Homo sapiens: one gene and its partners. The protein of the gene in region 5 purifies or fractionates together with the protein of the main gene of each other region. This does not show direct contact. Each region holds a gene or a part of one and is shown on either strand. Other genes may lie near its edges.

Evidence for each region.
Region 1: the proteins of SLC35F4 (region 5) and SMARCA2 purify together in Homo sapiens (affinity purification with mass spectrometry; one large-scale study listed by BioGRID and IntAct). This does not show direct contact.
Region 2: the proteins of SLC35F4 (region 5) and LRRC47 purify together in Homo sapiens (affinity purification with mass spectrometry; one large-scale study listed by BioGRID and IntAct). This does not show direct contact.
Region 3: the proteins of SLC35F4 (region 5) and IQGAP2 purify together in Homo sapiens (affinity purification with mass spectrometry; one large-scale study listed by BioGRID and IntAct). This does not show direct contact.
Region 4: the proteins of SLC35F4 (region 5) and AGRN purify together in Homo sapiens (affinity purification with mass spectrometry; one large-scale study listed by BioGRID and IntAct). This does not show direct contact.
Region 6: the proteins of SLC35F4 (region 5) and DIAPH1 purify together in Homo sapiens (affinity purification with mass spectrometry; one large-scale study listed by BioGRID and IntAct). This does not show direct contact.
Region 7: the proteins of SLC35F4 (region 5) and U2SURP purify together in Homo sapiens (affinity purification with mass spectrometry; one large-scale study listed by BioGRID and IntAct). This does not show direct contact.

The regions. Positions count from the first base shown.
Region 1 is NC_000009.12:2,021,847-2,025,346, reverse strand, and holds part of SMARCA2 (SWI/SNF-related matrix-associated actin-dependent regulator of chromatin subfamily A member 2), read right to left. Parts: intron 3,403-3,500; exon of another isoform or gene 3,230-3,402; intron 1-3,229. UniProt on the Homo sapiens protein: ATPase involved in transcriptional activation and repression of select genes by chromatin remodeling (alteration of DNA-nucleosome topology).
Region 2 is NC_000001.11:3,782,999-3,786,498, forward strand, and holds part of LRRC47 (leucine-rich repeat-containing protein 47), read right to left. Parts: intron 2,206-3,500; coding exon 2,089-2,205; intron 1,114-2,088; coding exon 998-1,113; intron 1-997.
Region 3 is NC_000005.10:76,675,785-76,679,284, reverse strand, and holds part of IQGAP2 (ras GTPase-activating-like protein IQGAP2), read right to left. Parts: intron 2,068-3,500; coding exon 1,935-2,067; intron 1-1,934. UniProt on the Homo sapiens protein: Binds to activated CDC42 and RAC1 but does not seem to stimulate their GTPase activity. Associates with calmodulin.
Region 4 is NC_000001.11:1,040,620-1,044,119, reverse strand, and holds part of AGRN (agrin isoform 2 precursor), read right to left. Parts: intron 3,456-3,500; coding exon 3,240-3,455; intron 2,948-3,239; coding exon 2,723-2,947; intron 2,643-2,722; coding exon 2,418-2,642; intron 2,345-2,417; exon of another isoform or gene 2,324-2,344; intron 2,165-2,323; coding exon 1,958-2,164; intron 1,944-1,957; exon of another isoform or gene 1,372-1,943; intron 882-1,371; coding exon 663-881; intron 583-662; coding exon 388-582; intron 298-387; coding exon 97-297; intron 12-96; coding exon 1-11. UniProt on the Homo sapiens protein: Isoform 1, isoform 4 and isoform 5: neuron-specific (z+) isoforms that contain C-terminal insertions of 8-19 AA are potent activators of AChR clustering.
Region 5 is NC_000014.9:57,859,593-57,863,092, reverse strand, and holds part of SLC35F4 (solute carrier family 35 member F4), read left to right. Parts: intron 1-3,500. UniProt on the Homo sapiens protein: Putative solute transporter.
Region 6 is NC_000005.10:141,612,501-141,616,000, forward strand, and holds part of DIAPH1 (protein diaphanous homolog 1), read right to left. Parts: intron 1-3,500. UniProt on the Homo sapiens protein: Actin nucleation and elongation factor required for the assembly of F-actin structures, such as actin cables and stress fibers. Binds to the barbed end of the actin filament and slows down actin polymerization and depolymerization.
Region 7 is NC_000003.12:143,036,070-143,039,569, reverse strand, and holds part of U2SURP (U2 snRNP-associated SURP motif-containing protein), read right to left. Parts: coding exon 3,466-3,500; intron 2,392-3,465; coding exon 2,235-2,391; intron 1,463-2,234; coding exon 1,367-1,462; intron 677-1,366; coding exon 610-676; intron 1-609.

The DNA of each region.
Region 1 (3,500 bases), on a different chromosome or scaffold from region 5:
GGAGAGGGGGGCACAGCAACCTCCCCATACACATGCATTGCTGGTCCCCACCCTCCCCCAGACCAGGACTCCCCGAGGGCCAAACCACTATGTTCTTAGGCAAGAATTTCTCAGCAGTATACTCTGTCTTGATTTCGTCCTTACTTCCCACTTTCCTACATTCACAACTAGAGAGTGTGTGTTTTTAAAAAGAAGAGGCCCCAGAGGAGCTTGCCAGAGCTCCAAACACCACAGTCATCCTCCCTCAGCCCAAATCTCCTCTGCCCTTAGCTGAAAGGCTCAGCACAGCCATCTGCATATTAAAAGGAGTTCAACTTCATGGAATTTTAAGGGTCACCACTCCAACCATGACAAAACTTGTGTCTTACAGTCTAATTGTAACCAACAGAAACACCAAAGACCCCCACATGTGGAGTAATATTTGAACACACCTACATGTGTTTCCTAATAATTCTGGTGATTTGAAGAGACATTTTGCCACAACGCCATTGAAAAGATGAGGGCAATAAGGCAGAAGGGGAAAACATGGCTTGCCCAAAGTAACATCTGCAACAGGAGAGAAACCGCAGGCAGAATCTTTTATCCCTTGACTCCCAGCCCAACACTGAGCTATGACACGGATCTAGCAAGCCATGTTTCCACCAGAGTTTTCACCAGGCCAGAGCAATGTGCAGGGGTAGAAAGTAGAAGCCAAAGAAAAAAAGGTCAGAAACAGTGGAAGGGATATCTTGCAAGGACTAGGCTTTGGTTGTGATAATATATTAACTTACCACAGGCTAGAGAAGTAAAGAGAAGCCCTGGAATGTGAAAAGAAGACCATGTCATCAACTGAAAAGGTCGATGATGTTTTAGTTACCATACCGAGTATCTACTAGGTACAAGGCATGCAGGCGGTACAAAAATGAATAGAAGGCTTACCCCACAACTCTGGAAGTCTGATACGGAAATCAGACTTGTGCGTAAGTAGCAACAAGATAAAAATATTGAAAGATCCTGCAGGACACGGAGGGGTACAGCCAAACTATCCAACACAGTCATAGAATGGGAGACATTACCTTTAGCTCAGAGGTTACAGGAGAGAAAGGAATTAGGTAAAGTGTAATGGAGAAGGTAGCATTTCAGCAAGGCCTTCAAGTTTAAAAAAAAGAAAAAAAGTTCCCTAGAAACTTTTGGTTTCTAGTCGCAGAGTTTGGGGCAGCACACCAACCTTGACAATATCTCTTAAATTGCTCTTCACCAAACTTCATAAGAAAGCACAAGGAAATCTTGGATCTCCAGCCTGTCTTTTTTCACAGCTCACTTTACAGAAAAACTTGGAGGTCCAGGTTAAAGGTGGAATATCAGAAATAAAAGTTAGGCCCAGTCCACATCTCCAAGAATATCCCAGTCTTATTAAAGTGTTCTGGCTGTTACAGGAGAACTGCAAGGTTCAGGAGATAGTTAAGATAAGAGTTCTTTTTATGTCTGTTTGCTGATTCAGAACATCTCCCCTGACCTGAAGGGCTGCCTCTTGTTTTGTATGTGGCTTTCTCTGTAAATGAATTGATAATTCACCCACAAGAAGTAGCAACATCTTCAGAACTGGGCCTCAAGCACTGTTATTCTTAATGGGGAAGCAGTGCGGGGTGGGTAAGGAGAACAGCAATGCAGATAAAGGAAATAAATCTACCCGAAGTTTCCTTTTTACAGGCCAAGGTTGTCGGGATAAGCGGTGAAACATTACCAAGGCCCACACTGCTTCTTGGTCTGAGCTGTGCAACTTTAAACAATGCATAATGTGATCTGTCAGATACAAATCACACCGGGTTCTAAAGTTAACCTTATAAGTTGCTCCATCAAGACCCTAGAAAATCACTGAGAACATTTCTTCAGCATTCTTGGGGTTATTCACAACACTTTCCCATTCGTTTCAAAGTCAAATATGTTTTTTAAAAGTTGTTAGATTAAAACTTTGCTCTGTTCCTTGGGCTTCTGTGAACTCTCCTTCATCTTTCAATCAGGGCAACAAATTAGGATGTGGGTGAGCTGCTACCCTCACTTTAAATAAACTGCCTTGGGAATGGTCCTTGCCCAGAGTCAGACCTGGCAAAGGCTGTGAGGCAGCTCTGTGCACAACAAAAGATAACAACAAACTCGGCAGCAGCTAATTAGTCCCCCATGAACCTCAGACACTGCCTTAATAGGATCCTGGCTCTTAACATTACCACCCTTATAGATACCATGAGTTGCCATCTCAAAAGAGTCTACCAGCGATGCAATTTCATGGCCTCTTCCATGAGGACTGACAGTGATCCCACAAAGGAAAAATTGTTTTAAAAAGGGAATTTACGAGAAAACCTAAGTGTTAGAAACCCTTTAGAGCAAAGCATCCTCTACTCTGAGACTCATGTCCATTAGTAGTTATAAAGGTAATCACAGATGAAAATCACTTTTAAAATTCAGTGGAACCCAAAGGGCTGGGCAAACTGGTCAAAACAAAAGCTAACAAACTGAACAAAAAAAAGTTAGTTTCAAATCATGACACCCTGAAAGGTAATATGTCACGTATATTTACACATATGCCTGTCTCTCCTAGGTTAGGCCCTTTTGCAAAGCAACCTCATTCTGGATGTTGATAAGAATCAACAACAGCCACTTCCTTTTCTGACTGCCAAGATAAGTTTATTTATACTTTAAACATATAAAAAGAAGAGTCTGAAATACATACTTTAAAAACCTGTGGTTAAAATGGCACATTTTTACTGAAGAGTAAAACTCAACCATCATATGCTGAATGAACTAAAGTTCTATCATAGGCACTCATTAATGTCAACTGGCCCTGACTTTCACAGTAGCAACAACAATTCAACAATGAACTCCAAGTTCATTGCAGTTAAAATGGATAATAGCCATTAATGATGTTACTATGCCTTTTAAAAAATCAACAAATGAGTTCATTTAACCTCTCTGAGTTTCAAGCTCCTTACCTACAAAATAGGCATAACAGTAGCTGACTACAACTTCAATTTTGATACGAATCAAATAAAATATGAGATATGAAGACACCTTGTGAGCTACTATATGCTCGCATTATTGCCAGGATCCTTCTAACAGCTTCAATTCCCACTCTGGACTTGAATCCACAATTTGCCAGATTAATCTAAAATATTGCTTTGTTCATGTATTCCCTTGTTCAAAACTTCTGAGACAAGCCTCCAATACAGATTGGATAAAATATTCATGCTTTAACCTGCAAGTCAAGTCTTTCCACAATCTCCGACTTTATCTTCTGAAAATTCTCCCCAACTGGAACTTCTTGCTCCAGGCAACCGGTCAAAACAGGTACATTGGTCTTTCCACGTTCCTTCAGGCCGGGTCTCTGTGATCTCGCCGGGTCTCTGTGATCTCGGGGCTTTCTTCTGATCTGGGATGCTCAGATGCCACCACCCCCACCTCTGCCCTCCCCCTACAGCAACCTTATCCCATCTCAAAGACCTTATCTACCCCATCAGCTCAAGAAA
Region 2 (3,500 bases), on a different chromosome or scaffold from region 5:
CCCAGGTCAGAAACAGAGCAGGACAAAAAGCTCCGGTGCTGATCAGTAGTGGGACTGCGCCTATGATTAGCCACCTCACTCCAGCCTGGGCAACATGGCGCGACCACATCTTAAAAAAAAAAAAAAAGAAAAAAGGCACAGCTGGGCGTGGTGGCTCACGCCTGTAATCCTAGCAGTTTGGGAGGCTGAGGCAGGCAGACTGCTTGAAGTCAGGAGTTCAGGACCAGCCTGGCTAACATGGCGAAACCCCGTCTCTACTAAAAACACAAATATTAGCCAGGCATGGTGGCAGGCGCCTGTAATCCCAGCTACTCGGGAGGCTGAGGCGGCAGAATCGCTTGAACCTAGGAGGTGGAGGTTGCAGTGAGCCAAGATCGTGCCATTGCACTCCAGCCTGGGCGACAAGAGTGAGACCCCATCTCAAAAAAAAAAAAAAAAGCACACACCTGAAAACATACCTAAAGGGTAAAATGGACGACTCAAAAAGTTCTTTACACAAATTAAGTGTAATATCAAGGGCCCAAGCATAACAAGCTTCAAAGAACAAAGTATTCTGAAGCCTGTGTTTACAGAAATCACTGGGCTAGTTACGGATGATCATCTTGCTTAGAGCAGCACCAAGGACCCTGACTTGGATGATACCCAACAGCGCACGGTATGGATAAAATGCTGTGGGTTGGGCTGGCATTTATGTCTGTTTCCTAATGGCTAGTTTATATCCTGTCCTGTCCCATCCTGAGGGCCACCCGCCCCCTGTGGAATGGCCAATACCTCCGCTCCTAACACCTTCCACTTCCCTCACGTCAGGGCCATCTAGATGACAGACTGGTTCCACAACGTCTCCTTTGGAAAGAGAATGCTTTCTTTGTACCCTGTTAAGAAGCTTCTGGGTTCTGGTAGCATTAGGCGGTTCCTGAGGAGCACAGACTAACTCAGCTGAGGCCAGCATGCGGCACTCCCCCGGGCCCGGCCCCACCCCACCAGGCACGCTGCCCACCTGTGCAGGCCCGACACACTCTGCCGCTTCTTCTGCTTCCTCTGCTCCTCGGCCTCCAGCTGCAGCTGCCGCACCAGCTCCTTGGCCTTGGCTTCTTTCCGCCCCAAGGGGACAATCTATCGGGCAGAAACCCACAAACTCCACTAGGGTCACAGCCACAGAACTCGCCCATCGTGTCGATTACGGCCTTAAGCCTCAATGAGCCCTCCCGACTCCCGCCCTCATTCATCTCTACAGCAGGCAGGGAGCATCCCACGGGACCACGCAGCAAGAAGCTGCATGTGGGCTGCCACTGCAGCGTCCCGGGGAGACCTGACGCCCAAACACACCGATCCTACTGAGGCAGGGCTTAACCTTAAAGCCAGCTCATGCACAACTGTTTCCAGAGGTCTGCCATCCTCAGAAGGCCAAAAGAGGAGAGAAAGGCTGAGCAGCCGGGACCTCGTGCACTCCACAGATTCAACAGCCCAGGACAGCACGACACAGCAACTCACCCTACTGCCAACCCCACGCAAACGGTTTTACTATCGGGACAGAGACCAAAATTTCTGATTAAAAGGTAGTGAGCGAGTGAAGGAAACCATTTTCCCAACGACTGCTCATCCGCCGAGTCCTCTCACAGCTGTGCACCGCTTCGAGTAACCGCAAACGCGGTCTGTTTCATTATTTCATGTCTTTGCAAGAACAGCATCGGATCCTACTCTAAAGAAAATGTTCAGGCCGGGTGCGGTGGCTTACGCCTGTAATCCCAGCACTTTGGGAGGCCAAGTTGGGCGGATCACCTGAGGCCTGGAGTTTGAGACCAGCCTGACCAACATGGAGAAACCTCGTCTCTACTAAAAATACAAAATTAGCTGGGCGTGGTGGCACATGCCTGTAAACTCAGCTATTCGGGAGGCTGAAGCAGGAGAATCGCTTCAACCCAGGAGGCAGAGGCTGCAGTGAGCCGAGATTGTGCCACTGCACTCCAGCCTGGGCAACAATGGAACTCCATCTCCAAAAAAAAAAAAAGTTCGGGCTGCAGTAGCAGCATGGCGTCTTTCGACACCAAGGAGACTCTTCAGCAGACCCTGCAAAGGAGGCTGCAGCACCTTGAGGTCCTGTGGGGGCCGGGCGCAGTACAGCAGGGGCCCTTTGACGGCACGGAGCTCGTGGGTGGCAAGGGTGGCAGCCGTCCTCTTCTCACAGAGATCTTCGTGGAGCTTGGTCTGTAACACAGAAGCAGTGATGAGCAAGGTCTCTTGTGCCCTGAAGCCCAGCGAGGTGTCCACACTTCACCCTTGGCTGGGCTGTGTGCCAGGAAACCCTCCCGGTCCAAGGTCTTCACAACCACGCCACGCCCCTTTCCGAGACAGGGCTCCCCTCCAACTCCTCTCCACCCGGCCAGCCAGGCACTCACTTTGTGGAATCACCATCAGGAAAACTATCTTAACCTATCAATCAGCAGACTTTCTTCCTTCTCTAATTCTGACATAATATTTGAGATTTCAAAGAACCCATCTTGAACTAAAATGTAAATAAAGGCTGAGCTTTAAGTTGTAAAGCCCTGGCTGTGATGCCTGTTCCCTTCCTCCCCAAGCTGCAGGCAGGACTCTCACGACAGTCACTCTCGGCCCGCCATGCTCTGTCGCTGCCACTGCGGGGCGCACGAGACTTTCCCCTGGGCACAGAGGTGCTTTATATTTTAAAAGTTGGTCAGGTGTCACAGAAAAGCAACTGGGAAGTTAGTCTTGCCAAAACCTAAACAATTCACAGAAGAATGTGCTGGCAAGAGTTGATGACTTTAATACTGTCTTACATAAAACAAAATGTGTGATTTACTGCAGAAGTCAGAAAACCCACCAAAATATCAAAAAATCAAGGAACCCTGATTTTCCTTTTTTTTTTTTTTTGAGATGGAGTCTTGCTGTGTCACCCAGGCTGGAATGCGGTGGTGCAATCTTGGCTCACTGCAACCTCCACCTCCCAGGTTCAAGTGATTCTCCTGCCTCGGCCTCCCCAGTAGCTGGGATTAAAGGTGCTCACCACCACGCCTGGCTAATTTTTGTGTTTTCGGTAGAGATGGGGTTTCGTCATGTTGTCCAGGCTGGTCTCAAACTCCTGACCTCAGGTGATGCACCCACCTCGGCCTCCTGAAGTGCTGGGATTACAGGCGTGAGCCACCGCACCAGCTGGAACCCTGATTTTCAACTGCAATAAAGCTATCCAGAAATTAGGATAGGCCAGGTGTGGTGGCTGACACCCGTAATCCCCACACTTTGGGAGGCCAAGGCGGGTGGACTGCTTGAGGTCAGGAGTTCAAGACCAACCTGGCCAACATGGTGAAACCTCATCTCTTTTAAAAATACAAAAAAATTAGCCAGACATGATGGTGAGCACCTGTAATGCCAGCTACTCAGCAGGCTGAGGCAGGAGAATCACTTGAACCCAGGAGGCGGACGCTACAGTGAGATTAGACTGCGCCACCGTACTCCAGCCTGGGAGACAAAGCGAGACTCCTTAA
Region 3 (3,500 bases), on a different chromosome or scaffold from region 5:
TCTCCTTAAAGACTTCTAAGACTTCTAAATTAATACAGTAACATTTTCTCTCTGCTACCCTTGGGAAAGAATCTCTCACTCTAAACAAGTACTCCCCACCATTTTTTTCGCATGTGGATATTGCATTCAGCAAATGTGCACCCAAGATGTACATATTCTTTGAAGACAGATAATGTACCACAAAAACAGACAAATGGGTCATTGCTCAAATATAAATGAGTCTGTCCAGTAGATAATTATTTCTGTAAGTAATGCATTGCTAGATTGCTGGACAGTTTTCCTTGTAATCTAGGGTGTTCATATATAGAGAAAAGAAGGATAGCCTATTCATTTAATCAGTATGTATTGAGAGCTTGATGTAAATGTCAGGGAAGTTCCCTGTTTCAACCCTGAAAGAAGAAAATCAATACTAGATTCAATCTTTCCTTCAAACCTACATTCAAGCTTTAGTTTCTTAGAAGAGCTTAATAATAGACTGAAATTTTAAGCAGCTAACCTGCCACTTGTCAGTATGTCTGGTTTGATGGGGGCTAGAGCACAACCTTTGAGAATGTGTATTTGTTATGCTTTCCCTTTGGTTCTCTGTATAATCCAAAGTTGGGTGCATCCTTAACTGAAGCATCTAGAACTTGAATGTGCATCTGAATCCTCTGGGATCTTGTTACAATGCAGGTTCTAATTTGGGAGGTCCAGGGTGCATTGCTAACATATCCCCAGGACCTTGCTTCAACTCACAAGGTCTGAAACTATTCTTGAAATGGTTACCTTTTAAAAACCAAGATTTTTTCATGAAATAAGTTCCAATTGATCTTAAAAAGAAAACAATGCAAACCCCTCAATGCTTAGCTTTTTTTTTTTTAATTTTAATGTTTGAAAAGTCATCTAAAGCCTCCCAATTCCTTCCCCATGCCACTGAGCACAGTGCCCTGCACCCAACAGATACTTAATACATGCTAATGGCTGACGGCAGTGATGTCTGCATGCAAACCAGATGTAGATGTCATAACACAGCACATGATGTGAAAAACTGCCTGCTTCCGAGAAATGGGGGTTTCCAGAACAATGGAAGTGATTCTTTGCAGAAGGCTACTATTGGGTGGTAGTTTCTTGTTTTCGTTGCGTAGCCTGTTTATTACCACTTTATGTTAAAACATTAGAATAAAAAGAATATTCTCATTTCCCCCAGAAAATTACTGGAAAAGCTGAGAGGGTTCCTGGAAGAGGGGAGAGACAGGGTGTAGGTCTACATAGCATAGCTTTGGCGGATGAGAACACCATAGCCTGTCCTGGCTCAGGGCTTAAACTGCATATTTACAATCTGGCTTTATTTTTATTATTTATTTATTTATTTTTTGAGGTAGGGTCTCGCTCTGTTGCCCCGGCTGGAGTGCAGTGGCACGATCATAGATCACTGCAGCCTCAGACTCCTGAGCTCAAGTGATCTCCCACCTCAGCCTCTTAAGTAGCTGTGACTACAGGCATGTACCACCAAACCCGGCTAGTTTTTAAAAAATTTTTAGTAGAGATAGGGGTCTCACTATGTTGCCCGGGCTAGTCTCAAACTTGTGGGCTTGAGTGATCCTCCTGCCTCAGTCTCCCAAAGTGTTGGGATTACAGGCATATGCCACCATTCCAGTCACAATCTGGCTTTGTAAATGGATTATGCCAAAAGTACACTTTCTTTTTTGGGGAGAAGTTTTATTAATGTCTAGGAGTCAGGGAATAATTATGTAAAAATAGAATTTTGTTGTTTGGGAGAAGGAGTTTTATTAATGTATAAGAGTCATGGAATAAATAATTGCGAGATTTTTAGGGTTAAGAATATGAGTATTAGCACATGTGTACAATAAGTCCTGTAGAGATTAAGCATTTTCAAGATAACAGATGCCTAAATCATGGGTCCATTGCTAAGATGGCTCCCCATCCCCACTTACTGAGTGTGTGCTGATGATTTCTTCAATTGAAATATAAATGACTGGTTTGCTGACTGTCACCAGGTCTGTGTATTTGTCCATATTAAACTTCTCTTCTGGCTCAGGGACATTACATGCTTCTTTGAAATATTTCCTAATAAAGGGGGGAAAAGTCTTAAGACAGACTCAAACATGTGCATTAAACAGTTTCATCAAAATAGCTAGGAAATTTTGAATGATGACATGTACTTTGTTCCCATCTCAAACCTTGAGAGGACGTGTTACAGCTTCTTCCAGGCTGGCTCCTGGCTGTCGGAGCTGCATCCATGTTTCTGGATATTGGACCCAGCTCCTCAAACAGGATTGGAGAGAGTGGCAAGGGCCTCAGGCCCTGTTTGTGACTTAGTGATATAGTGACCTATGCGTAGGTCATCTTAAAAATGTTATTTTAAAAATGGTCCCTGAAACTTAAAAAGTCAAAAATGATAATTCTTGATCTAAGAATCAAGTCTGTGTGAGGAATACAATAGAAAAAAAAGCAATTAGTCAAATTTGCTGCTTTAAACAGCACAGGCTCCTGGGCCTACATCACCCTAATCACCCTTCAGAGCTTCTGTTACCAGTTTGACAAAAATGAGATTAAGTCTACTCTTCTTCGTTGCTGCAAATATTTGCTGGCCGATGGAAAGATTGTTAAGGCTAGACACCCAAATACATAACATGTCCCAGGACTCAGACCCTAAAAAGTCTATTTTAAGCTAAAGCAAGTTTTGACAGAGATCAAGAGAAGTGAGGCATGCTGTGATCACAGTTGAATAGTTCTATGTATTTTTTGCCTAAACAATTCTTGTGCAGGTCGAATATACATTTTATTCTATAAAGTTGTAAATGTTTCATATGCCTGAAATCATTGTCGGCATCTCTCCTACAGGCACCTGGGTCTTATGTACCAGAAATGACCTCTGCTTTCCCAGCCAGAGGCTGGGGGAGGTTAAACAGCAGAGCCCTGTTGTGGGGAGCATGTTCCCATGTAACAGTCGGCTTTCCTATGCTGCTTTGGTTATAATTTTTTGTAGATTTCTGAGAAACACAAAGGATAAATATGAGTGGAAGAAAGGACAAGTTTAGAAGAGGCTCACTTCTTTGGTCTTGTTTCTTTTTAAATAAAGAATAGGTGGGAACATAAATGACTGATAGGAATAACAGCAGTTAAAAGTTCATGAGAAATGTGGGAAATGGATATTACTTTGTGTGTGTGTGTGTGTGTGTGTGTGTGTGTGTGTGTGTGTGTGTGACAGAGTCTTACCCTGTCACCTGGGCTGGAGTACAGTGGCACAAACACGGCTCACTGCAGCCTTGACCTCCAAGGCTCAAGTGATCCTCCCATCTCAGCCTCCTGAGTAGCTGGGACTACAGGTGCTTACCACTATGCCCAGATAATTTTTTAAATTTTTTGTAGAGATGAGGTCTCCCTATGTTGCCCAGCCTGGATATTACTTTGTTAGTCAGTGAGGAGAATGAAAAATTAGCTTGAAAAATCAACACTTTCTGTAGTAGGAGGATTTGGGGCAATTTTCTCACAAAAGA
Region 4 (3,500 bases), on a different chromosome or scaffold from region 5:
ACCGCACTCGGCTGCGGGGAAGGGGAGCAGAGTCACCCAGGGGCTTCTTGTCCAAAGCCAGAGCCCAGCAGTTTTCGCCAGCGTCCCCCGGCCTACCCTGCTCGCACGGCCCTGCCCGGGCCTCCTCGATCTGTGTCTGCTGGAGGCAGGCGGCTTCCCGTAGCTCGCAGGCACTGCCGTAGGTGACACCGTCGCTGCCACACACGGGGCCGGGCGGGGGGTGCTCACACCGGGGACACACACACTGCCCTGCGGAGCACACAGCCCCAAAAGCACACACGGCATCTCCACAGGTCTCTGCAGGAGACAGAGCCAGGCAGGGGTCGGCAGGCCCAGGCTGAGGGAGGCACAGGACCCTGGCCCGCCCGGCCCCAGGGCCTCACTCACCACAGGGTCCAGCTGAGGCCACGTGCAGGCTGATCTGGTGTGTGCAGGCGTGCACGTGCAGCATGCACTCGCTGGGGTACGTGTGCCCGTCGGAGCCACACACGGGCTGGGCCAAAGCCACGCATTCAGAGGGGCACACGCAGCGCCCGGTCTCGGCCTCGCACAGGGCTCCAAAGCGGCACTGCCCGCAGCGGTCTGGGGAGGAGCTTCCATCACCAGGCGACCAGGAACCTCTCTCTCCCCGACCCCCACCAGACCCCTCACCCGCCACTGACCACAGGGTCCTTTGCGCGCCACCTGGATCTCCCGCCCGAGGGTACAGGCCGTGGCCTCCAGCTCGCACGCGCTGCCGTATGTGACGCCGTCGCTGCCGCACACAGGATCGTAGAGGCTCGAGCACGCCTGCAGGCATTCACACGCTGCCTGCCCGTTCTTCACAGCACACGTCGCCCCAAATGCACACTGCACCCCGAGGCATGGGGACGGGGCCTGGTCTGGGAAGGACACAGGGGCTCAGTGGTCCCACAAGCCCCCCCTCCGCTGCAGGCAAAGCCCCCAGCCCCACGCAGCAGTCCCTCTTCCAGGGAGGGGATGGTGGAGGAAGAGAGAACACAGGAGAAGGGCCAGATGCACAGCAGACACGGCAGAGAAAGGGACAGACACGCGGCAGAGGCGAGCGGAACACACACCCAGGAGTCCCCGGTGGCTGCGGGCGAGGCTGCCCCCAAGCTTGGGGCTTCCTGATTGTCCACAGCAGGCTATGGGAGGGCCAGGCTTCCCCAGCCTGCCCAGGCCACTGACCCCTGACCACCAGCATCCCCAGGACACCCATGCATGTGGGGGGGCTCTCTGTGGGTGGGAGGAGCCTGCACCCCCAGAGTCACACCCAGGGCTGCACGGGGGAGGAGGTGTCTGTCCACTTGCTCTGAGGACCACAAGGCCAGGCAGCAGCAAGCCACCCCCCCTGCCGCACCAGGGGCAGACCTCGGGCTGCGGGCTCCTGGAGGGCAGGCACGGCACCTCATCCTGCCAGCAGGTCAGGCTGGAAGACACAAGAGGCGGAGCCGACAGGGAAGAAGAGACCAAAGAGAAGAGACAGACGCAGAGAGAAAGACCAGAAGATGGGCGAACTGACCAAGACGAACACGACGGGACACGACGGCCACTGCCTCCCCCTGGCCCTTCAAGTCCTGACACTGCCTCCAAAACGGCCGACGGCTGCCCATGTCCCAAGAGTGAGGACCCTGGTGTTGTGTCCAGCCTGCCCACCCCAACAGCCTGTGCTTACAGCGTGGAGACATGCGGACAGGCCAGAGGACTCCCAGGGAGGGCGTGGCTGAGGTCAGGGACCAGGGAGCCTGGACAAGGCCCCGCCTCTGCCTCACCAGCCCCCAGGTATCCAGGTACCCTCCGCACACAGGCTCCACCCTCCCCAGAGCCTTCCCAGAGGGACCGGCCCACTCCCAGGACCCCAAGAGGAACATGATGGATGAAGATGGCATGTGATGTCCAGGCAGGGACTGACGCAGGAGCAGCCCACCCCGCCTGGCCTCCACCCCGGGGCGCTCACCACACGGGCCCTGGTGCTTGCTGGGGATGGCACGCTGCTGCCGGCACTCAGCCTGCTGCCGCCAGCAATCACTGTCATACGTGCGCCCGTCCTGGGCACACACGGGCCTGTAGGCCCCGTCACAGGTGACGCGGTCGCAGGAGCAGCGGGGACGGCCACGGCGGGACAGGCACACGGCATTGAACCGGCAGGGCTCCGGGCACTGGTCTAGGACGCAGGGGTGAGGGAGTCACGGAGAGGCTGGAGCACCCTCCATCCCTGCCCTGGGATGTGCAGGGAGCAGGGGAGCAGGCGGCCCTCCCAGAGGGGAGCCGCCCACCTCGACCCTGGCACTGGCCGCAGCCCTCCCCCGGGGGAGCCGCCCACCTCGACCCTGGCACTGGCCGGAGCCCTCCCCCGGGGGAGCCGCCCACCTCGACCCTGGCACTGGCCGGAGCCCTCCCCCGGGGGAGCCGCTCACCTCGACCCTGGCACTGGCCGGAGCGCACTTTCTGCAGGAGGAGACCCCGGGCGGCCCCCGATCGGCCCATGACACAGTCGTTTTCGTAGGTGACTCCGTCGTCCCCACACACTGGCGCCTGCCGGGCAGGGCAGCTCTCGGGCCGTAGGAGCATCTCAGGGCGCCGCGTGCGCGGGTTCACACGGCAGCTGCGGCTCGGGTCAGGGAGGGCGCCCTGACAGGGGTCTGGGGGTCGAGGGCAGGAGTCAGGACGCTGTCGCCGCGCGCCCACAGAGCTCGAGCCGTGCGCCCGCCGCCGCGCTCACCACAAGGGCCGTCGAACTTCTTGAAGACATTCTCCTGGCGGGCGCAGGCGCGGCGCAGGAGCTGGCACTCGCCGGGGTAGTCGGCGCCGTCGCTGCCGCAGACGGTCCCCTCGGGGGCGCCACGGCAGGTCGCGGGGCACAGGCACGAGGCCGTCAGCCCGTCGGCCGAGCGCGCACAGGTGCTGCCGAAGCTGCAGGTCACGTTGGAGCAGGGGTCCCGCGAGCCTGCGGGCGGGGCTTTGCCGGTCAGACGGGCCGCCCCCGCCCCCGCTCCCGCCCCGCTCCCGCCCCGCTCCGCCCCCCAGGCCCCTCCCAGCCCCGCTCCTCCCCGCCGGGCCCCGCAGGCCCCGCCCCCGCTCCCGCCCCGCTCCGCCCCCCAGGCCCCTCCCAGCCCCGCTCCTCCCCGCCGGGCCCCGCCCCTGCCCCCGCCCCACTGGCCCCGAAGCCCCTCCCAGCCTCGCTCCATCTCATAGGCCCCGCCCCTCCCCGCCCCAGGCACCGGCCCCGCCCCGCTCACCGCACGGCCCGCGGCTGAGCAGGCGGATGCGGCGCTGCTGGCTGCACTGCGCCCGCTGCAGCTCGCATTCGTTGCTGTAGGTGGAGGCGTCCGACCCACACACAGGCGCCACCACGCTGGGGCACGGGCTCTTCTTGCAGACGCAGGACGCCCGGCCCGGCCCCTCCGCGTTGGGCTCGCACACGGCGCCGAAGCCGCACAGCATTCCCCGGCACGCTGGGGCGGGTAGGGGAGAAAGCTCAGGGTGCCGAGACGCCCGTA
Region 5 (3,500 bases):
GAGTTCAAGACCAACTTGACCAATGTAGTGAGACACTGTTTCTATATTTATTTAAACATTTTTTTTAAAAAAGATGATTAATGCATAGTGTGGTTACTTAGGTAGGGAATAGATTCATTCATTCAACAAGTGTTAATTGAGCACCTCCTATGTGTCAGGAGTACACCAATGAGCAAAACAGACAAAAGTATTTTCCTTTTAAGAACTTAAGTTCTAGTGGGAGCAAACAAGACAATAAAGAAATAAACAAGTACATAAATTATTTAGTATGTTTCAAGGTGATAAGTGCCTTTTGAAAAATTACAACAGGATAAAAAGGATAAAATATTCTGGGGGTAGAAATTATCACAATTTTAAATAGGCTCATCAGGGAAGTCCTCACTGAGGAAGTAACAATTCAGCAAAGACCTGAAGGATATGAGGGAGTTAGCCATATGGACATCCAGAAGAACACATTCTGGGCAGTGGGAATAGCTAGCGCAAAGATCTGAGGTAGAGTACAACTAGCATGCTGGAGAAACAGCAGGGAGGCCTGTATGGCTGAAGTGGAGTGAACAATTGGGAAAGTGGTTGGAGATGAGGTCACTGAGGATCCAGGAGTGCAGATAAAGGAGGGCCTTAGAGGTCATTGTCAATCCTTTGGCTTGTATTCTGAATGAAATGAGCATTTGAAGAGTTTTGGGAGAAGAGTGATGTGACTTATCTTACACAAAGATCAGTCTCACTGCTGTACTGGGACAGGGTGAAAACACCTAATTAGTATGTTATTGTGATAACGTAGGTGAGACATGATGGTGGCTTGAACCAGAGTTGTAGCACTAGAAGAAGAGAAAGGTGGTCAGAGTCTGCATATATTTGAAATTAGAGCCAATAGGGTACCCTGATAGATTGGATATGGTATCTGTAAGAAAGATAGGAGTAAAAAATGACTGCATCTTTTCTGGTTTGACTAAGTTTGAGTTGCCATCAGCTGAAGTGTGGAAGGTTTCAAGGTAGAGAAACTTTGGAAAGGGGTGGGGGGTGGATTGTCAGGGGATAAGGATAACGTTTTAGAGATACTAAATGTAATTGGAGATGTAGAGTAAGCTTAGAGTTCAGAGTAGATGTCTGATTGGAGATATAAATTAAGGATTTGCCAGTACTTGGGTGGTATTTAAGGCCTAAGACTGGATGAGACCTCCAAGGAATGAATGCATATAGAGAAGAGAAGAGGCAGAAGAATTGAATTTTGAGACATTCTGACATTAAGAGGTTCAGGAGAAGAAGAAAACCATCAAAGGAGATCAAGAAGGAGCATCCAGGGAGATAGGAGGAAAACCAGGAACATGTGTTACCCTGGAAGCCAGTAAATAAAGAGTTTGAAGGGGAAGAGTTTAGCTGAGTCCAATGCTATTGAAAGGTCAAGTAAAAAGAAGACCGATTGAATTTGACAATTAAAGGTCATGGGTGATCTTGACAAGAATGTTGACAAGAGCACATAAGGATAGATAAAATGGATTAGAATGTGTATAAGAGAGAATTAGAGGGAAGAATTGGAAACTGTGAGTATAGATGACTCTGCAAGGATTTTTGTGCAAAGGGGAGCAGAAGAAATGGAGGAAGCAGGCTCAAGAAAGTTTTTCTTTCTTTAAAGATTGGAGAAATAAGAGCAAGTCTGCATGCAAATGAGAATGATTCAATAGAGAAAGAAAAATTAATGAAGTTGGAGAGATAGTGTATGGAAACTAGTACACAAGAGAAGGGACATTGCCTTAGATAGGAACATGGATATAGGGTAAGGTGTGTGGGGCCCGTTTGGGAAAGTGTATAACTGAGATGGTGGGAGTCTGTTGAGGTTCTCTTCTGGTTGCTGCAGTCTTCTCCAAGTAGAAAGAGAGATCACCAAATGAGAGTGAGGATGGTGGAGGACATGGTAGAGGCTGGAGGATAGAGAAGGTATGAATAGTTAAAACAAATAGGGAGAGTGAATGGACTGGGGAAGTGCGCTCAGGTTGTCTGGCAGCCTTAAGGGTCCGTTTAAAGTTTTTGGTCACAAATTTAAAGTAAGACCAGCCAGTAGGTTGGCTCATTCATTAACACAGTAAAGGCATAGAACAAGTAGAGATAAGGATATAACCAGAGTTACAGATTATCCAATGGGTATTAAAAAATAGGGACAACGGAGTTGTATACAAAAGAGTTGTATTAATAAAATGATTGATCATGGAAATTAAACCTGGTAAGCAGAGAAGAGGAAATCTAGATAATTAGGGACAGGGAACAGATGGTAGGGTCCATGAATTAGAGGTCTCAGTAGAATCAAAGACTAGTGGAAGTTAGCTGGAAAGGTAGGAGGTGGTGGTTTGTATGCTATAAGAAATTTAATTCATTTCCATAAGTCAAATGAAAGGATAAATTCATTCATGTTTTATTGTATTCCATTATTGATATTTTTGGGGTGAGTATTCTTTTTTGTGTGTTTGTATAGGGAAACAGTGTGTTGATGTATGGTTGAATTAAACCCTAGTGGTTTGGAAATTAATTATATCCTTAAACCTGCCAGCAACTGGCTCTGAGACCTGGGACACCTCTTGGTGGACATGGATTTTCTTGTCTGTGAAAAAGAGAGTTGAAATCACTGTTTTAGAACAGCCATGCAGTAGGTCAGCTTTGACAGCTTTCCAAACAGTCCCACCTTCCCTGGAAAGGTATCAGTAAAGGAGTGCATTTACTTCGCCTCTCTTCACCCACCTTTGGTAAACAGTTGCCTCTCTTTGTTTTGTGCCTTTGTACCTGTTGGCCTTTTGTTTTTTCTATACTCCATTAGTGATCAGGTTCTATGATGGTTGTCTATTGGAAGCTGCAATTTGTAGTAAATATTTTCCCTTTTACTTGGGTACCAGCTCTGGTATCATCCCCATTTCAAAAAGAACTCTACCCGCTTCTGGCTCTCTTGGCTCTCTGGGTGCTTGGACGGCTGCTATGACTTAGCATTCCCCAAAGTTCTAGCTTCAGCTGTGTCCTCTCACTTTCTGCCTTCCCTGAGTGAGCTCATTTAATCCCATGGCATTACCATCTTTGGTGTGTCTGTAATTCTAGGCCCACTTTTTCTGAACCCACACCTGTATTTCAAAATTCCTTCGAACATTCTACCTGAATGTCCTCCAGTCATGTCACACATAAAACCAAAATCATCACTCTGTCCTTAAAATGTGCCTTTTCCTTCTCATTATGCATTTCAGCTTCTAATGTCTATATCAAACCAATTGTCCAAGCCAGAAACTCTGAGTTATCCTCAGCTTCTGCCCTTTCCCCTTGCCCTATAATCAGTTAATGAATCCTGTGCGTTTTACCCCAGATATGTGTTTTCCAGTCCTGCGATCACTGCCTTCTATCCATCGCATCTTTTGCCCAGCCTCAAGTCCTTCCAATCCAGCATACGCACCTTAAAAATATTTACTTCCCTACAGTGCAGATGTGTTCATCTCACACCCCTAATCAAATACCTGAAGTAATTTTTC
Region 6 (3,500 bases), on a different chromosome or scaffold from region 5:
AGACCACACATCACAATAAAAGAAGCCCCAGCAAAAGGGTTCATACTGTATGATTCCATTTATATAAAATTCTAGAAAACACAAACTAATCTATAGTTACAGAAAGAAAATTAGTGGTAATCTGGAGATGGGAGGACGAGGATGGGTGAGAGGGAGGGATAACAAAGAGAGAAGGAGGAAACTTGAAGGTGACTGCTATATTCATTATCTTGACTATAGAAATGGTTTCATGAATAAATATGCAGTTTATTGTATTTTAATTATATATCAATAATGCTGTAAAAATAGAGATGAAGGGTATCTTTTCTACTTGATCTTAAAGTTCTGACACTGAAAATAAAACACAGACAGATCTGAGATGTAAGGCCAACTACCAACGTATGCTCTTTGGTTTTCTGTGACCTTCAGTATCAAAAATGGTTTATAAATCATCCTGTCTTGGGTCCTTACAGTATTTTAAATCTTAAAAGAAATTACAAATCCAAAGCCTTCAGATGACACTACTCACAAGACAGGAAATAAGTCACAAAATCAGAAATCCAGAAAATTATACAGGACACCATAAATTCTACCTATATTTGCCACCCTAACAAAATTCCCAGATAGCTACTAAGGACCAGTCATATCCACCACCAAGGATGGAATTTTCCCATCCTCCATAAGAGAATGTTTCCTTTAATTCAATTCCATTATGCTAACTCTCATTTGCATCCCCTTATCTGTTCTATCCCCCGCCTTGGAGGAAAGAAATTTAAACAAATATTTAAAGGGCAAACTGACTCTCCCTAACTGTTACAGAGCCAAGCAATAGAGAGCCAATTTCTTCAATCTTTTTCCTTTCAATCTCACAGCTTCTAGTATATCTGTTCCTTTTATATAATCTCTTTCTACTACTCCAGCCATTCCCAAGATCCTAAAATTTAGTAAAGAAAATGTAGAATCCAAAATTTCTGCTCCTCTTCCTCCACTTGTTCATCCAATTTCCACCTCTTAGCCCCCTGATGTTTCCAACCTACAACTGCAGAAGTGACTGTTGCACTGAGTGGGTGTTTGGACTTGATGACATTTAAAGTCCCTTCCAACTCTGAAGTTTTAAGGGTACCATTCACAGTAAGATTTAATAATGGATGGAAGTAAGAATTTCAAAGTTGAAAGAACAATGAGAGTTATCTTGTAATCAGTGGTAAAATTCATTAAAATATTAGTCTATTTCTCTTTTCCTTCAGTAATTCTTTTACTTCCTTAAAAAGGGTTTCTTGATCCTAAGAAACGTGTTAAAAAAAAGGAGAAATACAGTAAAATATGTTCATAGTAATTATTCTTTACTTTTCAATTTTAGCTTAAAAGTTTTAAGAAATTTTATTATCAACAGCTTCTGACTGCCCCTAATTCCCCAAAGGCCTGGCTATTCATAGCGCTCAAATCAGCCCCCACGTAAGTAGGAAAGGAATAAAAACACAGGGAGGAGGTGACAGGCAGCCAGGCAAGGGGAGAGTGTGGCTTTGTCTCACCTAACCCCAAGGAGGGGCAAACATCCAATGCTTTGCTGGTAGCATAAAATGAATTTTTTGCCTACTGCTTTCAAACAAAGGTAATTGAGAAAAGGAGGCTCAATGAAAAAAGAAAACCACTTAAGTAATACAAAGTTTGTTTCAAAATGGGGATGATTTTTGTAGCCATAAATAATTTCAGCTACTGGGACATAAAAAGGGATATATAAACCTGCATATACAAACTCTTTGCTTCTCTATAACATCTAGTATTTATCAATAAAAATTATTTTAACCTGTTCTTCTAAATCATATGTGACATACAACTTATCTTTTAAATCTCTATTACATTTCATGGAAGATATATAACACTCCCTGAGAATAGCCTGGCAATACATTTATAAAATACCAAGGGCCTTGGGGAATAACAAAAGGTGATTCTAAGACACAGGAAATAAAATTATTCTGACCCGTGCACCCATCAACAAAATTAAATCATGTCTCACTATTTTCTTAGCTTTCATAATAAACATAATTTACGGGTCATAAAATTTTCAGCTTTTTAAAAAAATTTACCAACTCTCCCAAGGCAGAGATTTTAATTCTAAGGCATTCCCTCACTTTCACCTCCTGTGAGGGAGAATTTTCTTTGAAAAAGTACAGGTAACCATACCAAGTAGACTCATGATCTGTCCTTAAGACAAGGCAGGAAGAATGGCGGAAATCTTTAAGCTACCATTCTGTCATCTCAAACATCTCACTAACGTTCCTGTAGGCTCCCCTCCCTCTTTCCAAACTATATAATCCTTGCGTTCATCATCTGTTAAAAAAAAAAAAAGGTGTACAAAGCGCTCTGTATATTTTTCAGTTTTCTGCAAACTTTTGCAAAGCTCTCTGTATATTTTTCAGTTTTCTGCAAACTTTTGGATTAAAGTTAATGTTTTAAGAGGATATAAGCAGAAATCTGCACGAACAACTCCACTTCTTTCTGCCTGGCATCCTTTAATTTGTCTCCTTTTGGACAGGAGTCTACTACTAAACATTTATACTCTATTACTTTGCATTTAGAAGACCGTGTAACTGCAACATGATCATAACTCAATATAGGAATCCAAAATTAAACTAATTTTAATAATTTTAATAATAGTAAAAATCATTCTCTTGGCCGGACGAGGTGGCTCACGCCTGTAATCCCAGCACTTCGGGAGGCTGAGGCTGGCGGATCACGAGGTCAGGAATTTAAGACCAGCCTGGCCAACATGGTGAAACCAGTCTCTACTAAAAATACAAAAATTAGCTGGGTGTGGCGGCGTACACCTGTAATCCCAGCTGCTTGGAAGGCTGAGGCAGGAGAATCGCTTGAACCCGGGAGGTGGAGGTTGCAGTGAGCCGAGATCGCGCCACTGCACTGCAGCCTTGGACACAGCAAGACTCGTCTCAGAAAAAGAAAAAAAAAAAAAAAAAAAAAGGGCCGCACGCGGTGGCTCACGCCTGTAATCCCAGCACTTTGGGAGGCCGAGGTGGGCAGATCACGAGGTCAGGAGATCGACAACATCCTGGCTAACACGGTGAAACCCCGTCTCTACTAAAAATACAAAAAAAATTAGCCAGGCGTGGTGGCAGGTGCCTGTAGTCCCAGCTACTGGGGAGGCTGAGGCAGAAGAATGGCATGAACCCGGGAGGCGGAGCTTGCAGTGAGCTGAGATTGCACCACTGCACTCCAGCCTGGGCAACAGAGCGAGACTCCATCTCAAAAAAAGAAAAAAAAAATTCTCGCTAATGCTCCTAGTTAAATCAGGAAGCAATATTCTCTCTTACAATGCATCACTTTCTCGATTATATGAGAGTGCATACAAAGTCTATTAAATGTAAGAATACTCTGCAGCCTCCTAACATCCCGGTTCTACTTATTCCCCTTACGTATATTTTGGAAATCAGTCTATTTGACACCCACATTGATCACTGCTGAAAAGTCAGAAAACCCTCTGTTCACCTAAAATTTTTATTTTC
Region 7 (3,500 bases), on a different chromosome or scaffold from region 5:
TGTCAAGAACTTCCTAAAAACTGCCAATACAGACTTGCAGGAGAATCTGAGAGGAGAGATTCCTACAACCACACAGTGTCAAATACAAAAACAATTTTGGGGTGATTACCAAACAGCAAAATCAAAATTATTATTTCTCTATATTTCAAAAGAAAAGATTTTTTCCTTTGTATTCATTCTTAGTTCTTCTGAAAGGTTTATATTTAAATAACACAATGGCCATAATGCAATCTTTTTCTTAGAATGTACAATCCAAAAGAAAGGAGTATAACCTTTCCTATTCACATTTTAAAAACCACTTTTTATGGAGCCCAAAACAGTATTTGATGGCAAAGGTTTGAAAAAAATGCAGTTGACCAATTAGTAACTACAAAGTGAGAATATAACCTAGCGTAAAAAACTCAAAAGCAAAATGAAACCAGATCCATCAAGACCAGAAAACAAAAGCTCTTTATTCACTGGAAAACCAATGGAGAACTAAAAATGATCCTCTCCCAAAATTTTTTAAGAGTGAAGTTTTCCACTTCACTATTATTTCAACTATATCTCTTAATGAAAAGGGGAGTGTATATGAACAAGAAACAGTATATTCAAAACTTAGATTCTTACTTTTGATTTTCTTCTTCTTCTGATTCTTCATGCTGGTCAAATAATTCCCATTTAGAAGTTGTAACAGCTGAATGAAAGGAAAAGGAGGATGTAATTCCACGAGGTAAACTAGCATTTTTTCAGTAGTACAGTGGAAGCTCAAGCTTTAGAATTGAAAAGTTTATATTACAGAAGTTTTTTTAATCTATGTTTATCAATTCTCTAAATAGTTATTTCTATATGCCAAATCTCTTTCCTCACACCTACAATATAATTCAAATTCATGAAGTGACGAATAATGTCATCCTTATTTCTGTGTTGAATATTAAGATTTATTTCATTAGAACCTACAAATAGCAACAATTAGATTATTAGCACTAGGATACAGGTCTAAGTAAGTGTGAAAGACAGGTCTAAATTGCATCTAATCAGTCTAGCATTATGGGAGGGTCAAAGCTTGGTTTCTATGAAACTGACCTCTATGTAGATTTCTACGTAGGTACAGCTTCCAATCTACATTTGCTACTAAAATGCCTTAACCTGAAAGGTTTTCAGTGATATCTCATTACTCTCAAAGCTTCCAAACTGAAGGACCTAAGAAAATTGTAACAGCAACACCAACCACAATAAAAGCATACATTAGACACAAAATATGACAACATTGAGCATTAAGGTTAAAACGTGTTATAAAACATAAAAGGAAAACATATATACAAGCACACCAATAATTAACGTACAAGTACTTAATTTAAAAAATATTTATTTTACTTTTACTCACCCTGTGCTTCCAATTCAGATTCATCCACAGCTTCCCATTTTGATGGGGCAACTTTAAATATAGGCTCATTCTTTTTTGAGTCTTCAGTTGCATCCACTATTAGGGAAAGATAAGCCATTAACCCTGACTACTAGTGGATGACCCGAAGTATTACATTCATGGGTATTCACCATATTATTAAAAAGCAAAGTAAAATAAGGACACAGATGGACAAATAGTAATACTAAGAACAAGGACTATGACTAAACCAATTCTCTGCATCTGAGGGCAATATTTTTAACAGTATATATATCAATTCAGAAAATACAGGTTAGTAATATATTAAGCAAGTGAAGAAGTTGAGAAGTAAAACAAATCTTTAATATCTTTACCTAATCTCTGAAATATAAAACTGCATACATTATTCAATATTTAAACATATAATTCAAATGTACCAAAGAGCTGTCTACAGTTCCTATTTTCAAAATGATTTTAGGCAGCTAGGAAAACTGAAGTTGTAAGTTAGAAAAACTAATAAAAACTGATAAAACCAGGTACCTAGGATCATGCATAACTGAGCACAAGATTTTGCCTATAATTTCCTGACAAGACAAAAAGAGAAACTTGCTAATATTATAGGAGGCTGATTGTCCCAGCAAAGAAATGTGACCAGAAAAAAATGCTTCTTCTTGGCCTTTTATATACATAGCATACAAATAAATGTATTACTGGGTATATGAATTTTGAAAAAAATCAGAAATAGAAAAGTTAATAACTTGATACGTTCATGAGAAACTATAACCTTTTTCCATATCAGCATGTATGGAAATTAGAGTTTTGGTCACCAAATGTATTAGCTAGATTTAATCAGTTTGAAATCTGAACTTACAAGGCACTCCATCAAGATCATCATCAAGACTTTTTATAGGGACTCCATCAAGATCATCGATGGGAGTAGCATCAATAGGAATTCCATCTACATCTTCCAGAGGTGCACCATCAAGCTCTTCCTCGATGGGGGCACCATCAAGGTCATCTGGAACATCCTATGGAAATGTGTACTATTATAACATTTTCCTTTGCTTGCTGAAGTCACATTGCTTGTAAGATTAATTTGTAATCCAGTACAAGCCAACATAACTGGATACCCACAATCTGAGGTACAATGTAAGAACATATTCTATCATCCAGTTTGCTAAAGAAGCAGTCAGTTGTGCATTTATCTAATATTTACCAAGTGCTCACTGGTGCCAGGTACCTTGTGAGGCAATGATGAGCAAAAACAAGTTTGGTCCCCCTGTTATAGAGCCTGGTAAAGGTTTTTGCTGTTGTTTTGCAGGGGTGGGGGAACCAGGAAATCAGATCATCACAACAATATATACTTATCTGTAACTATGGTAACTGCTACAGCAAAAGGGCGTATCATACTATTAGCATACTAAGTTTCACTTAAAGAGGTCAGAGAAGGCTAAGGTTATGTTTGAGCTGAGATCTGAAGGATCTCAGGTGAAGATAAGTCCCAGAAAGAGGGAAGGACATGTACAAAGTCCAATGGTAGGTGGAAACACACATTTAAGAAACTGAAACAAGGACCACGTGGGTTGCAACAGTAAGGCCAATTAGGAAGATCCTGCAGGAGTGAAAGTGAAAACATAATAGCTTGACTAGCATGGCAGAATTAAACATTAAGGATTCAGTAATTATTTAGGAGGTAAAAAAGAAAAAAAACAACAGAATGGTGATGTATATCTGCTATCATGTGATGCATCTTTTCATGCACATATTTTACTTATATAGCTATCTTTAACAAAATAAAGTCATGCTATACATATTGCTCTATTACTTGCTTATTTTCTACTATTAACAATATATCATAACTCTTATATCATTAAATAAAAAAAACACTCACCAATTTTCACATAAGGACACAAGACAGAGAATTCCTGTTACATGTAATTTTGACTTCTGGGTTCCAGCAATAAAAATCCACTACTTAATGGTAAGCAATAGATATTTTTCACAAAGAAATGTACCTCACATATGTAACACAGAACAACTCCAAGAAACCTCCACCCCAGAAACGAATTTTAAAAACAACCAGACAAATACAGACTGCCTACCTCTGTTTCCTTTTCTTCAATAATATTTACAAGTC